2 separate regions of the Homo sapiens genome follow, and region 1 is linked to region 2. Evidence: fine-mapped expression QTL. Tissue or cell type: sigmoid colon. Region 2 holds a variant in brackets; the other region holds the start of a gene. All regions are shown on one strand. Distances are from middle to middle.

What was found. PIP is the estimated chance that this variant, and not a neighbour inherited with it, causes the effect.
Region 1: GRIN2A starts here. The variant in region 2 is fine-mapped to the expression of GRIN2A in sigmoid colon (GTEx, PIP 0.99).

The regions. Positions count from the first base shown.
Region 1 is chr16:10,179,159-10,187,287 of GRCh38, reverse strand. It overlaps GRIN2A (glutamate ionotropic receptor NMDA type subunit 2A), which reads left to right and starts at 4,860. Exons shown (of 13, transcript NM_001134407.3): 1 at 4,860-5,411; 2 at 6,859-7,290. The coding sequence starts at 6,877. RefSeq lists silencers at 5,593-5,652, 5,663-5,772.
Region 2 is chr16:9,777,139-9,785,138 of GRCh38, reverse strand. All of the region lies in intron 11 of GRIN2A (glutamate ionotropic receptor NMDA type subunit 2A), which reads left to right. Among named protein-coding and RNA genes, the nearest start is that of LINC01195, 330 kb to the right of the region's middle. The variant G/A (reference allele first, on the strand shown) is at 4,085.

The sequences.
Region 1 (8,129 bases), 400 kb before region 2:
GGTATGTGGAAGAGCTGCTCCTTGTTCTTTCACTTAGAGAAGTCTTTGTCGGTTCTGTTAGCCAGGGTTCTCTAGAGGGACAGAACTAATAGGATAGATGTATATATAAAGGGGAGTTTATTTTATTTTATTTTATTTTTTATTTTTTTTGAGACGGAGTTTTGCTCTTGTTGCCTAGGCTGGAGTGCAGTGGAACAATCTCAGCTCACTGCAACCTCCGCCTCCCAGGTTCAAGTGATTTTCCTGCCACAGCCTCCCAAGTAGCTGGGATTACAGGTGTACACCACCATGCCTGGCTAATTTTTTGTATTTAATAGAGCTGGGGTTTCACCATGTTGGTCAGGCTGGTCTTGAACTCCTGACCTCAGGTGATCCACCCGTCTCGGCCTCCCAAAGTGCTGGGATTACAGGCATGAGCCACCGTGCCCAGACTAAAGGGGAGTTTATTAAGGAATATTGACTCACATGATCACAAGGTGAGGTTTCACAATAGACTTCAAGCTGAGAAGCAAGGAAGCCAGTCCGAGTCCCAAAGCTGAAGAACTTGGAGTCCGATGTTCCAGGGCAGGAAGCATTCAGCCCCAGGGGAAAGATGGAGGCCAGAAAACTGAACCAGTCTAGTCTTTCCATATTCTGCCTGCTTTTATTCTGGCTGTGCTGGCAGCTGATTAGACGGTGCCTACCCAGATTGAGGGTGGGTCTGCCAGTCCACTGACTCGAATGTTAATCTCCTTTGGCAACGCCCTCACAGACACACCCAGGAACAATACTTTGCATCCTTCAATCCAATCAAGTTGATACTCAGTATTAACCATCACAGTTGATATAGCTGCTATGAAGAAGTTTTTCTTATCATCTGAAACTCTTTGAGCAGCAAAATTCTGCTTAGCATCCTAAGCTGCATTGAGAATTAAGCTTGGCAGCATAGATGGAGTAAGGCTGTCATGATCTTATACACGCTGTCACAGTCTCTGCATGTATGGTGAAGTTCCAGGTGCCTGACACACGATGTGCTCCACCCTGGTGACATGTCCACCCCAGTGCAACTCCAGCCTCCTGTGCCTATGTTTAGAGGCACAGTGTCCCTTCCAATGAAGGGCTGCCTTCTTTCTCTATTCAAAAGAGGCCGTATCAGTTTGATTTATCTTTCTATAAGTCTGATCATGAATAACTTAAAACCCTGAATACCAGTATTTTTCAAGAAAGACAAATCCAATTTCAGGGTCAGCATCAATTTATGAGAATAGCAAGTGCAGAGGCATCATCAGAATCCCCTATGGATCTAAAATAACTGTCCGTGCTTGGCCCCACACCTGGAGATCCTGATGGAGTAGATCTAGAGTGGGCATAGGCATCTGTGTTTTATTTTCTTTATTTATTTTTTTTGGGACAAAGTCTCACTCTGTCACTCAGGCTGGAGTGCAGCAGTGTGAACACTTGGGTTGTCATCATGTTGCCCCGGCTGGTTTCAAATTCCTGGGCTCTCATCATGTTGCCCAGGCTGGTTTCAAACTCCTGGGCTCAAGTGATCCTCCTGCCTTAGCCTCCCAAAGTTCTGGGAGTACAGGCGTGAGCCACTGCACCCAGCCACATCTGTATTTTAAAAAGTCCCATAGATAAAACCCACATATCCATTGCAGGAGACTGGATACACAAAGTGTGGCTTATCCATGCAATAGAGAGCTAGCTGCTCAACAATAAAAAATAAAAAAGCTGTTGATACATGCAACAACACAGAGGAATCTTCTAGACATCAGGGTAAGTGAAAAAAGCCAGTCACCAAAGAATACATAGTGTAAAATTCCACTTATATGAAGTTCAGAAAAGGGCAAAACTAATACATGGTATTAGAAATCAAAATTGTAGTTTACACTGAATGGGGGGAGTGGGATTGACAACAAAGGGACACAAGAAAACTTCCTGGTGGTGATGAAAATACTCTGTACCTCATTTTACGTGACGGTCTATGTGGATACACACAATCTCAAAAGTAACAAACTGGCTGGGTGCAGTGGCTCACACCTGTAATTTCAGCCTTTGGGAGGCCAAGGCCAGAGGATTTCGTAAAGACAAGAGTTTGAGACCAGCATGGACAACATAGCAACACCCAATGGCTACAAAAAATAAAAAATTTGCCAGATGTGGTGGCATGTGCTAACCACCACAAGTCCTAACTACTTGGGAAGCTGAGGCAGAAGGATCACTTGAGCCTAGGAGTTCAAGTTAATAGTGAGCTACGACCACACCACTGCACTCCAGCCAGGGCAAGAGTGAGACCCTGTCAAAAAAACAAAACAAAACAAAACAAACAAACAAAAAAATAAAAAAACACCAAAAAACCTTCACAAATGAAACCCTTGAGAGATATGCATTTTATTGTCTATAATTTATAACTCATTTAAATAAAATGGCCTAACTTCCCCTTTAGACCCCAAGCCAGAGTCTTGCATGGGTGCCAAGGAGTGGCCTAATCAGTTCAGCCCAGCCATAGACTCAAGAAAGGAAACATTTTCCTGTTCCCTGCCTTATATTATACAATCCCCCATTTTAATTTACTTTCCAGCATTTCCCTCACGCTTTCTCTGTCTTTTGGATTAAAAAAAAAACAAAAACAAAAACCCAGGAAACCCAGCATAGAACAACCAGCTCAATAATGAATCCATTTGTCTCCACACACTGTGCCCCTCTCCTGTCTCCATTTCAGCAGCCACATCCACATTCTTGGAAGAAGTTCCCCTGCTTCCAGGCTACTTCAAGGTGCATGATGTTGATTGAGCATCTACTATGTGCCAGACCTTGTTGACCCCTTTATTAAGGCTACTTCCTTTTCTTTTCAAAATAATCCTGAGAAGTAGATGTTTTTACTGCCCCCCATTTCCAGATTAGTGATCAATAAAGGGAAGTAATATAATGTCCAAAAGTGATATTTTAGTTTGATCCAGGTGCCATAGCAAAACATCATCAACAGCAGAAGTTTATTTCTCTCACTTCTTGAGGCTGGGAGGTCCAAGATGAAGCAGCAGCAGACTCAGTATTTGGGGAGGGCCTAGTTCCTGTTCATAGGCCGATGCCTTCTTGATTAAGTCTCACTTGGTGGAAGGACCTAGCTGACTCTCTGGCATCTCTTTTATAAGACCACAAATCCCATTTTACTCTCATGAAGCCATGAAGTCACCTCCTAAAGTCCCCACCTCCTAATACCATCACCTTGGGAGTTAGGATTTTATCCTATGAATTTGGGGGTGGGAACACACACATTTAGACCGCAGCAGGTGACATTAGGTTAAGTGGAGGAGGCAGGGTTGGAACAGTCATTGCAAAACCTCTTAGAATTTAAGACCCCTTTCCTTCCAAGGCCTGAAAGGCAGACAGGCGTTGGAGATACAGGTGAATATAAAAGGGGCAGAGCTCCTCCCTTGACCATGTATTTCATGCCCAGTCGCTAGAATTCAAGTCAACCAAGCCCTCACACACCCGGGCCGTCCCATGTTCTCTGGCTCACCTCTTCTGGTAGCTTAGAAGTGGCAGCCTCAGGGAGGCTTCTGTTTGGTAGAACTTAGAAGGAAGCATGTGGGAAATGCAGATGTCTTTGCTTTTAGGATTCTGGCTCCCTGAGATCAGAGGAGTGGGTTCCCGTACGGGGGTGGCGAGGCACAGGGAGAAGCATTGGAGCAGACTCTGTGTGTGTGTGTGTGTGTGTGTGTGTGTGTGTGTGTGTGTCGGCGCGCCTGTGCGTGGAGGGGGATAACTGTACCCAGCGCGAGGCACTGGGGGAGGAGGAAGCGGTAGCAGAGATCTGAATAATTGATTCTTCAGCCGCACCAGACGCCCGGGAGCGGGCGGAGAGCGTGGTTCCAACACCACGGACAGCAGCGCGCGCCGCCGCAGGCGCCCCCGTCGCCAGCCAGCCACCTATCCTGGCCTTATTTGCCGCCGTGCGCTCTCGGAACGGGTGGCCGCGCTCCGCGTCGCCGCCGAGGGACTGCGGGGTCTGTCTCGACCCACCTAGGAGAGAGGCTGCGGGCAGGAGACGCTTTCGCCCGCCGGAGCTCGAAGCCTCTTGGGCTTGAGCGGGGGCTACTGCGTCTCGCCGGCTGAGAACAAGTCCCTAAGTTGGTGTGGAGGGCGCCGCTACCTTCCTTCTCCTCTTCCTCGGAGGCGACCGCAGCAGAAAGACGCCCCGGGAACCCGGCTTTGCCAGTGCTGTGAACCAGGGTGTCCAGGCGCTCACCGGACTCCCGCTGGGAAGTGGGGAGCCGAACGCCCGGCGCGGAGCTGGCCCAGCAGCGAAGGGCCCGGAGGGAGCTGCCTTTCCCCGCCCGCGCCTCTCTCGGCCGGGGACCGCGGGGATCCCCGGCCACACGCGAGCGCGCTCCCACACTCACACACACACTCGCCCTCAAACACACCAGCCCGGAGCTGGGTTGCGGAGAGGGTGCTCCGGCGCGCTCAGAGGACCGGGCAGTTGCCGTCCGGAGTGGGGCAGGAAGCGGAGCTAGGGATCTTGGAGGGGAGCTCCTAGGGCTTGGCCGGATCATGGGACCGGGTGAGCGCTGAGAATCGCGGCCGCAGCCATCAGCCCTGGAGATGACCAGGAGCGGCCACTGCTGAGAACTATGTGGAGAGAGGCTGCGGTGAGTGCTAGCGCGGGACGCCGGGCCTGGGAGGCCCCCTTGGGAAGGGGGGAGGTGGGAGGCCTGAAGAGGGAGGAAGCGGCAGGATCACAAGAGGGTCGCTGCGTGGGAAAGATCCACCTCCCTCGGGGAACCGGGACCGCGGGAGCCCGCGTCCTTCCCTCCCCCTCTCCTACTGCTGGCTCGTCACAAACTCAGCCAGCGCCCCCCCACCCTCGTTACCTCCTCTTTCTCTCCCTACCTCCCTCGCTCAGCAGCTCCCGGTCGCACAACTCCCAGCAGCCGGCGCTGGGGAGGTGGTAGGGGGTGCGGGTGGAGGTGCCCAGTTAGCTTCTCGTGGGTGGCCAACCTGGGGCTCCCATTCTCCTGTGCACCCTGGAGTGGAGCTCCCGCTATCAGCCACAGGGGCTGAGGATCCGCACTGGGGGCGTCGTGGGCATCGGGCTTCAGCTTCCCCCCTCTTGTCTAGCCCCCCTGGGCGCATAGGGGGGCTTGTGAGCACTGCAGACTGCAGCCTTCCCCTCAACCCTCCCTCCCCTCGTTGGTGGGCTGACCCTGCCTCTCCTTCTCTCCTCCGCCCCGTTAGAGCCCTGCTGCAGAGCCTCCGGCTGGGATAGCCGCCCCCCGTGGGGGCGATGCGGACAGCGCGGGACAGCCAGGGGAGCGCGCTGGGGCCGCAGCATGCGGGAACCCGCTAAACCCGGTGGCTGCTGAGGCGGCCGAGATGCTCGTGCGCGCAGCGCGCCCCACTGCATCCTCGACCTTCTCGGGCTACAGGTACGTCCCAGAGGGAGATCAGGGCTCCTTGGGCCGGGGAGGAGGGAGACTCGACCGGAGGGAGAGCGGGAGAGGGATCAGGCTAGAGAGGGAGAGGGAAAGCGGGAGGGAGCCCAGCGGCGAAGTGCAGGAGGGGCACCAGGGGGCGCTGCGGCTCCGCGCTCCGCGGCGCTTACCCAGGAACGTCGAGGCCTCTTGGAGTTCGCCTCAACTTCCCCCGGCTCCAGCAGCGTCCGTCCCGAGAGGCGCGCGTCAGGGCACGCGTGCACGACCGTGCTGGTATTTGCAGGTACGCAGGGCTGTGCACCTGCCGCAGTTCATGCGTGTGCACCACCTGAGGACATGTGAGGACTCCGGCTGGCCGTGGGCACCGCTACAGCAGTCTGAGGAAGTGCGCAGAAAAGCGCGCGTGCCTATGAGCGTGTGCGGCCCACTGCCCACGTGCACCTAGGACTTGGCAACAGCGCCCGCAGTAGAAAGGCTAGGGAGGGGCTGTACAGTCCACGTCCGTCTGGGAGCTTCTTGGGAGCCTACCTTTCCCCCTACGCACGTTCTTTGCCAGCTCCTACGCGCTGGCCCGCGGGGGGACGCGCCTACTCTCCAGAATTCAGCATTGCACACGGCGCGCGTGAGAGAGGGTGTGTGTGTGTGAACATGTGTGTGTGCGTGTGTGTGTGCACGTGTGTGTGCACGCGCGCGTGTAGGGGTGAAGGACTCTCCACGGCCCCTTGGCTCGAGGTGGGGCGAGCCCCAAGTTCCCCAGGCACAGCGGAGCCTGGGCCCACCAGGCAGCGTCCTCACTCCCAAGCACTTGGGGTGTACTCTGACTGAGAGGAGCCGGGTCTGTAGTTGGGGCTGGGCGTAGAGCAAAGTGTGTGGTGCACACGACGGGCTCGTAGGGGGCGGGGTCAGCCAACTAGCTGAGCTCTCAAGCTGGGACGCGGGGTCTGGGTGCCGCCTCCGCACGCCCTGCGGGGTCTGTAGTTCGCTCCGCGCCAGCAGGGGGCGGGGTTGATAACTTGGTCCTCTCTATCCCAGGTGGGAGGGGTTGGATGGAGGGTTTATTCTGTGCACCTAGGAGCTTGGTGGGGTACAGAACACGCGCGGCGCTTAGGGTCTGTGGCCCGCGGCGAACTTGGGGAATGCGGTGGGGGATATGGACAGAGATGGGGATGGGGAAGTGCCTGGAGACAGGGGATGAGGAAGCTGGATGCGAGAAGGGGCTGGGGGATGGAGAATTAGCTCGAATTGGAGTTGTGGATAGAGTTAGAGATGGATCGAGGGATGTGGATGGCGTCGGGGACTCGGAATGGAGTCCGTGATCCCAGCAGCCTATCCTGCTGCTGAGTTCCATGCCTGGCTCCTAGAGCAGGAAGCCAAGTTGGTAATCCCTTTCTTCTGGTCGCCTTGCTCACCGCGGCCCTGCCTCTCACTCTTCACCTTGCAGGGACCGTCAGTGGCGACTATGGGCAGAGTGGGCTATTGGACCCTGCTGGTGCTGCCGGCCCTTCTGGTCTGGCGCGGTCCGGCGCCGAGCGCGGCGGCGGAGAAGGGTCCCCCCGCGCTAAATATTGCGGTGATGCTGGGTCACAGCCACGACGTGACAGAGCGCGAACTTCGAACACTGTGGGGCCCCGAGCAGGCGGCGGGGCTGCCCCTGGACGTGAACGTGGTAGCTCTGCTGATGAACCGCACCGACCCCAAGAGCCTCATCACGCACGTGTGCGACCTCATGTCCGGGGCACGCATCCACGGCCTCGTGTTTGGGGACGACACGGACCAGGAGGCCGTAGCCCAGATGCTGGATTTTATCTCCTCCCACACCTTCGTCCCCATCTTGGGCATTCATGGGGGCGCATCTATGATCATGGCTGACAAGGTAAGGCCGGAAACTGATGCCCTGCCAGGACCTGGGAAGCCACCAGCTGCATGGCAGCTGCTGCAGGTCTTCGGACGCCCCTAGAATCTGTCTTGATGTGAAGTGGGGGTGGGGGTGGGAGGGTCGTGGCCACTGGCCCTGGTGAGAACCAGGTCTTGCCTCTCCAACCCAGAAATGAATGGAAATGCCTTTTGCCTTGTTTCTGAAAATGGTGTACACAGGAGCACTTTGGTGTGTGTGTGCCAGGAAGCGCTCAGAAAACTGAGAAGTAGGCTGTGGGGTGGTGGTGGTGGCGGTGGTGGCATGTTTGGAGATTTACGAGTACCATGGGGCACAGAGGTGGGCCCAGGAGCACTGGAGACATATGCTTCCTATTTTCACAATGCCAGTTTTACCTGATTGTTTTGTGGGAAAATGTCCATTTTTTCCTCTTATGGTAAGTGACTAAAACTATTTCTAAAAATTATTAAATGTGGGTAGGTTCTGGAAGAAAATGCAAAGTTTTTAGGTAAAGCACAAAAGGGCAGAAAAAATGTCATGCTTCCTCTGACTCTGCAGTTAGAGGAACAGAGGTGGGGAGTTTGAGAAGCCCTGGGCCAGAGGAGCGGAGGAGAGACCCGTTCCTCAAGGGGAGTGGGTGGGAGTGGAAAGAATTAACTCCAAACCCAGAGCATGGAGGGCCTGGCATTTTCCTTACGTGTTCTTTGTCTGGGGCTCCAAGGCCCTCAGATGAAGGAGTTGGCTCCTGAACAAAGATGGGTCTTGGTACTAAAGTTGGAGAGTCTCAAAATGCAAGAAAGAGTGTACAAAAATCAGTTGGCTCTGAATGAGAGGGAGGG
Region 2 (8,000 bases):
TGTGCATGTGTCTTTATGGCAGCATGATTTATAATCCTTTGGGTATATACCCAGTAATGGGATGGCTGGCTCAAATGGTATTTCTAGTTCTAGATCCCTGAGGAATCGCCACACTGACTTCCACAATGGTTGAACTAGTTTACAGTCCCACCAACAGTGTAAGTGTTCCTATTTCTCCACATCCTCTGCAGCACCTGTTGTTTCCTGACTTTTTAATGATTGCCATTCTAACTGGTGTGAGATGGTATCTCATTGTGGTTTTGATTTGCATTTCTCTGATGGCCAGTGATGATGAGCATTTTTTCATGTATCTTTTGACTGCATAAATGTCTTCTTTTGAGAAGTGTCTGTTCATATGCTTCACCCACTTTTTGATGGGGTTGTTTGTTTTTTTCTTGTAAATTTGTTTGAGTTCATTGTAGATTCTGGATATTAGCCCTTTGTCAGATGAGTAGATTGCAAAAATTTTCTCCCATTCTGTAGGTTGCCCGTTCACTCTGATGGTAGTTTCTTTTGCTGTGCAGAAGCTCTTTAGTTTAATTAGATCCCATTTGTCAATTTTGGCTTTTGTTGCCATTGCTTTTGGTGTTTTAGACATGAAGTCCTTGCCCATGCCTATGTCCTGAGTGGTATTGCCTAGGTTTTCTTCTAGGGTTTTTATGGTTTTAGGTTTTTTGTTTGTTTGTTTTTTTTTTTTGGTTGTTGTTGTTGTTAGAGTTTTGCTCTTGTAGCCCAGGCTGGAATGCAGTGGTGAGATCTCGGCTTACTGTAACCTCTGCTTCCTGGGTTCAAGCAATTTTCCTGCCTTAGCCTCCCGAGTAGCTGGGATTACAGGCACCCACCACCACGCCTGGCTAATTTTTGTATTTGTAGTAGAGACTGGGTTTTGCCATGTTGGCCAGGCTGGTCTTGAACTCCTGACCTCAGGTGATCCACCCACCTCGGCTTCCCAAAGTGCTGGGATTAGAGCTGTGAGCCACCACACCCAGCCATATAATTCTTTTTAAAAAACTTTTGTTGGAAGTTCATGGGTACATGTACGGGTTTGCTATATAGGTAAACTTGTGTCATGGGGGTTTGTTGTACAGATTATTTCATCACCCAGGTATTAAGCCCAGTACCCATTATTTGTTTTTCCTGATCCTCTCCCTCCTCCTATCCTCCACCCTCCATTAGGCCCCAGTGTGTGTTGCTCCCTTCTATATGTCTATGTGTTCTCATCCTTTAGCTCTCCCTTGAAAGTGAGAACATGGGGTATTTGGTTTTCTGTTCCTTTGTTAGTTTACTGAGAATAATGGTCTTCAGCTCCATCCATAAGGTTTAAGAATCACTCTTTAAAGTAACAATATTTACCATTTAGAAACATTTTATCCTGTGATTGGCAGACGTTGAGTACACATATCAGTTGCCATCCAATCACTCAGTTGGGGTCCATGATATTGAATCTTTGCCCTGAGTTTTATTCATTCTCTTTCTCTCAGGGCTTCTAATTGGGTTTACACAGAGCCCTTGGTGATTGTGAAAACTAGAGGCATAAATGGTTTGGCACTTCTAAGCGTTAGTCCACATGCCAACCACAATAAAGAACATAGGAGATATGAGGGTAGGCTATGAATGGAAGACGTAGTCAGATAAGCTTTAATGTTAAGCTTCCTCATCCAGGAAGGATCGAAATAGACATGAAAGCCTTTATTGCTTCCAAAGATTTCATTTTCATTTATTGACTATAATAACAGTGTTAAAAATAAAGCAGGCAAAACTGAAAACCCCACATTTGGGTAAAGACTGAGCCAGCACTTCTATCGATTAAATCGGATCTGGAACTAGATTTGGACGCAATGGCTATCCTGATTCCTTATACGTGTAGACGGGGTCTCATGTGAAACCACGGGGAAAGTGCAGCTAAAGACCGTTGATTGAGTCTAATTTTTTATGTGGATTTCATTATTGCTCCCACGTATGTGGGTGACTTTTGCATGTACATAAACCTCATGTATACACAAAGATAATACACTGATGATATAGACATCAGAAGGGGGTGATCATTAATAACCATTCTGATGCCCCAACAACTAAGTCACTTACTCTCCTATGACCCAAAAACTGTCTAGGGCAAACCATTTATTCAGAAATGCAACGTTTTCAAATAAGAGATATGTCAGTTCTAAGCATAGATTAGCAATAAAGGACTTAACTGCTTCTCCATTGGCCTGTGACCAGATGATACCATAAAAATTAGACTTGTTTATTTCCCTCCTAATTTTAACTAGAGACATATTTGGAATAATAATGGAACAGTACTTATTAAGAAACAGATAATATCCATAAATATCCTGGAGAGCCACTGAGTCTTCCTCAGTGGTAAAACTCCAGGGGATTTAATCTGCGTAAATTTGCAGTGAATTCCCTAATGGGCCTGTTGAGATTCAGAATCTTAGTGTCTGTTATCAATCCAACACCAGGATTAGTACAAGGTCAGCATGCCAGGCCCATGCCTGACAAGCAGTGAATTGCTCAAACCAGAGAAAGTCAAATGTCAAGAGAACCATCAAAGTGGAAATAAGATATAATGAATGGCTTGTTGGTAAGTCAAACATTGATGTCACATAGGCTCGTGCAAAATTTATGGCATGGATAAACAGTGGCCCCAAATCCCTCTCAGTCTATATTTTTTAAACACTTTAATTTGGAAAGGCAATATATTATATATACAGTTGTCCCTCAGTATTGTGGAGGATTGGTTTGAGGGTCTCCTACAGACACCAAAATCTGTGGATGCTCAAGTTCCTGATATAAAATGGTGTAGCATTTGAATATAATCTATGCACATCTTATACTTTAAATCATCTCTAGTTTACTTATAATACCTAATGCAATATAAATGCGATCTAAATAGTTGTTACACCGTATGGTTTAGGAAACAATGACAAGAAAAAAAAGTCTGTATATGTTTAGTGCAGACACCATTTTCTCCCCAAAATATTTTCAATCTGTGATCATTTGAATTCACAAATACAGAAAGGGCTGACTGTACATATAATCACCCCAATCTACTACTTTAACATAATTGTTTTTAATTTATGTATTATCTCCTGATCCCTGTTACTTGCAGACACATTTCTTTAATTATAATTATTGGTTATATATACTTTTATAGTCCATGATTTTTCACTTATTATTACATTTTAAGCATTCTTATGTAACTATACTATCTGCTTTCACAATTATTTTAATTTTTTGCATAAAATGTCATCATCTTTATTAAACCAGAAACCATTACATTATTTTCCAAATGCTACACATTTTGATATTTGGCTAGTATAGATAACGATGGAAGAAATTTCTTCATGCCTATTTCTTTTTTCTTTTGAACTATTTGCAACAAACTCTTAGATGTAGAATTTAAAGGTTACTGGTTCTAAAGATCTCTAGGAGTCTTGATATATGGCGTCATATTGATGCCCAAAAGGTTTGTTAACCCTGGGTGCAGTGACTCATACCTGTAATCCCAGCACTTTAGGAGGCCAAGGTGGGGGGATTGCTTGAGCCCAGGAGTTCAAGACTAGCCTGGGCAACATGGTGAGACCCCATCTCTACAAAAAATAAAGACATTATCTAGGCATAGTGGCATGCACCTGTGGTCCTAGCTACTTTGGAAGCTGAGGTGGGAGGATCACTTGAGCCTGGGAGGTTGAGGCTGCAGAGAGCAGTGTTCCTTCCACTGCACTCCAGCATGGGTGACAGAACAAGACCCTGTCTCAAAGAAAAAAAAGTTTTGTTTCCATCTAAAGTAATAGTAATAGTGGATCAATGTACCAATTTTACCACTATCTAGCAGCATTAGGCATTACAGTTCTTTTTGCTATTTTAGAAGGTGCAACATGCTATCTCTTTTATATAAATATAAAAAGTTATTTCATGTTTCATGTTTTGATTGGTTAAATCAGAATTCTGCAAATTATGGCCCATTACATGTTTTTTATAAAGTTTTACTGGAACACAACCACACTCATTCCTGTATTACGCATTGTCTATGGCTGTTTTTGTGCTACAAAGGCAGAGTTGAGTAGTTGTGATAGAGACC[G/A]TATGGCCTGTAGTGCTGAAAATATTTACTAATTGGCCGTTTACCATAAAAAAAAAAAAAGATTAGTGACCTCTGGCTTAAACAATAAAAGTGACATGTTATTTTGAAACAATTCCAACAATTGGAAGAATTTAACTAAACATGACTGGTTTCCCCTTATCCTTAAAGAAATTTTCTCTTTTTGTAAAGAAATATCACGCTTAAAAAAGTTTGTATTTTTCTCTCCTCTGGTTTAGAAAGTCTGTTTTCTTCAACTTTCCTTATTATTACCTCACTTAACCCCCAAAGTAAAAGAACACTTATACCTGTACTATGCCACTCACTGTTTTTTTCTATTTGTTACCTTCTATAAACTATGACATACATTCGTTATATTGCACAAATCCCAATATCCAGTTAATTTTTGTACAGCTGTGCAACTCCCACCCAGATTGAGCTATAAAATGTGACCACTATCCTAGAAAGCTTCCTCATGGCCCATGCCAGTCAATATGCCCCCCACAAGTAATCAACATTCTGTCCTCCATGACCATGGGGTGGTTTTGTCTTCTTTTGATCCTCAAATAAATGGTGGAATCATACAACATGTATTCATTGATGTCTCTTGTGACATTGATACATATTACTGCATGTAACCACAGCTCATTATTTTTTTTCGTTGCTGGGTGGTATTTTATCGTACAAATTTATCCATTTTGCTGCTGATGGGCATTTACATCACTTTTAGTTTTTGTCTGCTTTGGATATTTTTGTACCTTTCTTGTGCACAAAGGCACTTATTGGTTTGGAAATATACCTAGGAATGAAATTGCTGGGTAATAGAGCGCGTCTACTCAACTTTAGTAGATACTTTGAACCAGTGTTCTGAAAATGTAAACCAATTTACATTCCTGCCAGCAGTGCAGGTAGTTTCTCCAATTTGCAAGTGCTCCTTTTCGACTTTCTGTAAGAGGTAAAGCTGGCTTGTGCAACAGAACTCTAGGTGTCTTCATCAGTGGCTGTGTGGTTGGCTGTTGCCACCAGTCATTTAGAGATCCAGATTCTTGCCCCAACATCAACATTGCCTTATTTTGTGACCTTGGTTCATGTAACCTGACCTCAGATTTAATGTCAGTACAATGGGGGCAGAGGACTGTGGAGTCTGCCCCACTTACTTTCCTGAGTTAGAATTGATATCTAGCTTCTCTGCCACCCGCATGTGCTCTTCCACTCATCCCTGGCCACTGTCTCACCCCATCTGGTGCCTTAGACTTGGGAAAAGGGAGAGGAGGTCAGAGGAGCACCTCCATACCTGGGGAGCGGGAGGATGTCATCAAAGGAAGAGCTGAGAGCTCTCCTAAGTCATAACCCAGCCCTGCACACCACCCTATTACCCTCTATGGAAAGAAAAACAGGGTCTTCCTTCTGCTTTAGTTACGGATGGTTCTGACAGCTGATATAGGGTCCCTTCTGTAATAGTTTTATTTCTCACTTTCTGTCCTTCTCCATTCCCCTTTTTCTTCCTCCTCCTTCTCTTCCCTGTCCTCTTTTCTTTCCTTTCCACTCTCTCCTTCTCTCTTCATTCCACAACTAAGTCTCCGATGCCCATTAAGCTCCTTGTGTATACTAAGCAATGGGGAATACAGATCAAATGGAAGTGATCCATTTCGCTTCTGGATTTTACAGCTTCAAGGAACTTGTTGACAACACTTCGATAAAAAAGAAACTGAAAAGCAGTGAGATAATTTTACTTGCTGAAAAGAGGAGCTATTTCTTGGCATGTAGAACTGAGCAACACAGCATAGGTTACCTTGGAGTTACAAGAGAAGCATCACACCCAAATGGCTGAAGCCCCTGGCCAGAGATAAGAACTCAGAGGCATCTCCCCAACCTGGGAGACCAGGCTCCATGCTTTCCCACTGCTTCCTTTAAATGGATCATTCAGGCATTTGCCTGCAAACTTAAAGTGACCCGCACGCTATTCCCTTTTATGTACCACTAGTTGGCCACATTCTCTCTTTCTCGGGCTGACTCTTCATTCTTGCCTTGTGTGATGCAGGAGCAGAAAACTGTCCTCTTGATTCATTGCACCCTCCCTGCCCAGGATGTGTAAGTAATAAATCTTTGAGCTTATTTTCTATATGGTGGTGTATTGAATTTGCACCTTTCATCTGAAGACCTAGGAACTACCGCAGACTGGGTTTTCCCTCGGGGAGACTACAAGGTTGGGCTTCCAGTGCCAGAGCGATGATCAGGCAGACATAAACTGGACATGGGTCAGACAAGAGCTGCAAGGGCATCAGCAGTTATAAATAAGTTCCTCCTGGGAGAGATCCCCTGGTCATGGATAGGAAAACTAGGCATGAGGTTGTCTACTAGGTAAAAGAAGCATCCTGTGAAAGGCACGTGTAAACACCCAGATTTACTTCCCCTCGTTGGTCATTAGGGCAGGGTTGTTAGCTGCTGTAGTACTGGAAACCCAGTTTAGCCAGTGGCTCTCAAAACAGCACGGGATCTGAAGTTATTGCTATCCTTTTTTTTCTTAAATCTGTATGTGTTTAAAACACAAGAACTCCTTTGTGATATTAAAAAGTCCTCATAACCTTCCCATGATAAGTCATCAGATTTTGAGGACTATTGATTGAGAAAATATGCAATGGCAAAAAGTCACTATGAATTCATTTGTGCTCACAAATGCATGTGCCTTTTAAGCCATGTCAGCTTGACCGTCTTTATTTGTGTGAGGCAGATTGGTTAAGCAGATTCCAGAAGTGCTTGGTATATAATAAGGTTTCCTGGATTCCTACAAGGTTTCTGCCGTCTTACTTCAAAGAATTGTATCTCTCCAACTTCATCCAGTAATGGAAAATTATGACCATGTGTATTGTTTGATGTTTGATAGAGTTGTCCAATCTTTTATTGTCCAATCCTCTTTTTAATTTTTCTTCTGAAAGAGACACTGGTTGGGAAGCTGCACAAGTTGTAGTTGGGTTTTTTGTTGTTGTTGTTTTTGAGACAGTTTCACTCTTGTTGCCCAGGCTGGAGTGCAATGGCGCGATCTCAGCTCCCTGCAACCTCCACCTCCCAGGTTCAAGTGATTCTACTGCCTCAGCCTCCTGAGTAGCTGGGATTACAGGCGCCCACGACCACGCCCAGCTAATTTTTTGTATTTTTAGTAGAGATAGGGTTTCACCATGTTGGCCAGGCCGGTCTCAAACTCCTGACCCCAGGTGATCTGCGTGCCTCGGCCTCCCAGAGTGCTGGGATTACAGGCGTGAGCCACTGCACCCGGCCAGAGTTGGGAGATTTTATGGTTGGGAACCTGTGTGCATAAAATCCCCCAACTCCATCCAACTTGTGCGACTAATCACGTGGCCTGTGAAATCCTGCAATGTGACAAGTAGCAATGAACTTAACAATACTCAAGTTTCATCCATGGAGCAGAAATCTCAGTTGGAAGGTGGCGGTGAAACATTTATGCCAAAGACAGCCTGTCCCTGCCTCTAACTGGATACATTTAAGCCTAGCCCTATTTTTATTTTGGTTTTGTGACTTCTCAGCATTATACAGAAATGGAATATTCTGACATTTAAATAAGGAATATTTATCTCCCAAATTCAATCTATTTGTGTCCAGAATCTTGTACTATTTCCTATCACCACCACCATCAAAAGTATTTTTTCACTTCGGCAAATAGTTCAGTGACCCTCTGAGATCGTGAGAACAGAGGTCACAGGCTCCAGAATATTATTTCTGAACCCAGGGTTACTTGGGTCTTATTTTTCTCTAGCTCATTTTTTTTTCTTATTTGTCAGATTTATTGGGCCTTTGTTTTGTCCTTTTGAGAGTTTTTAAATTTGTCTTTAAAACAACATGGGTGTTGGGTCACCACAGGGAAGAGAGAAAGGAATGAGTTTCTCACTGCTGCATCTGGGAG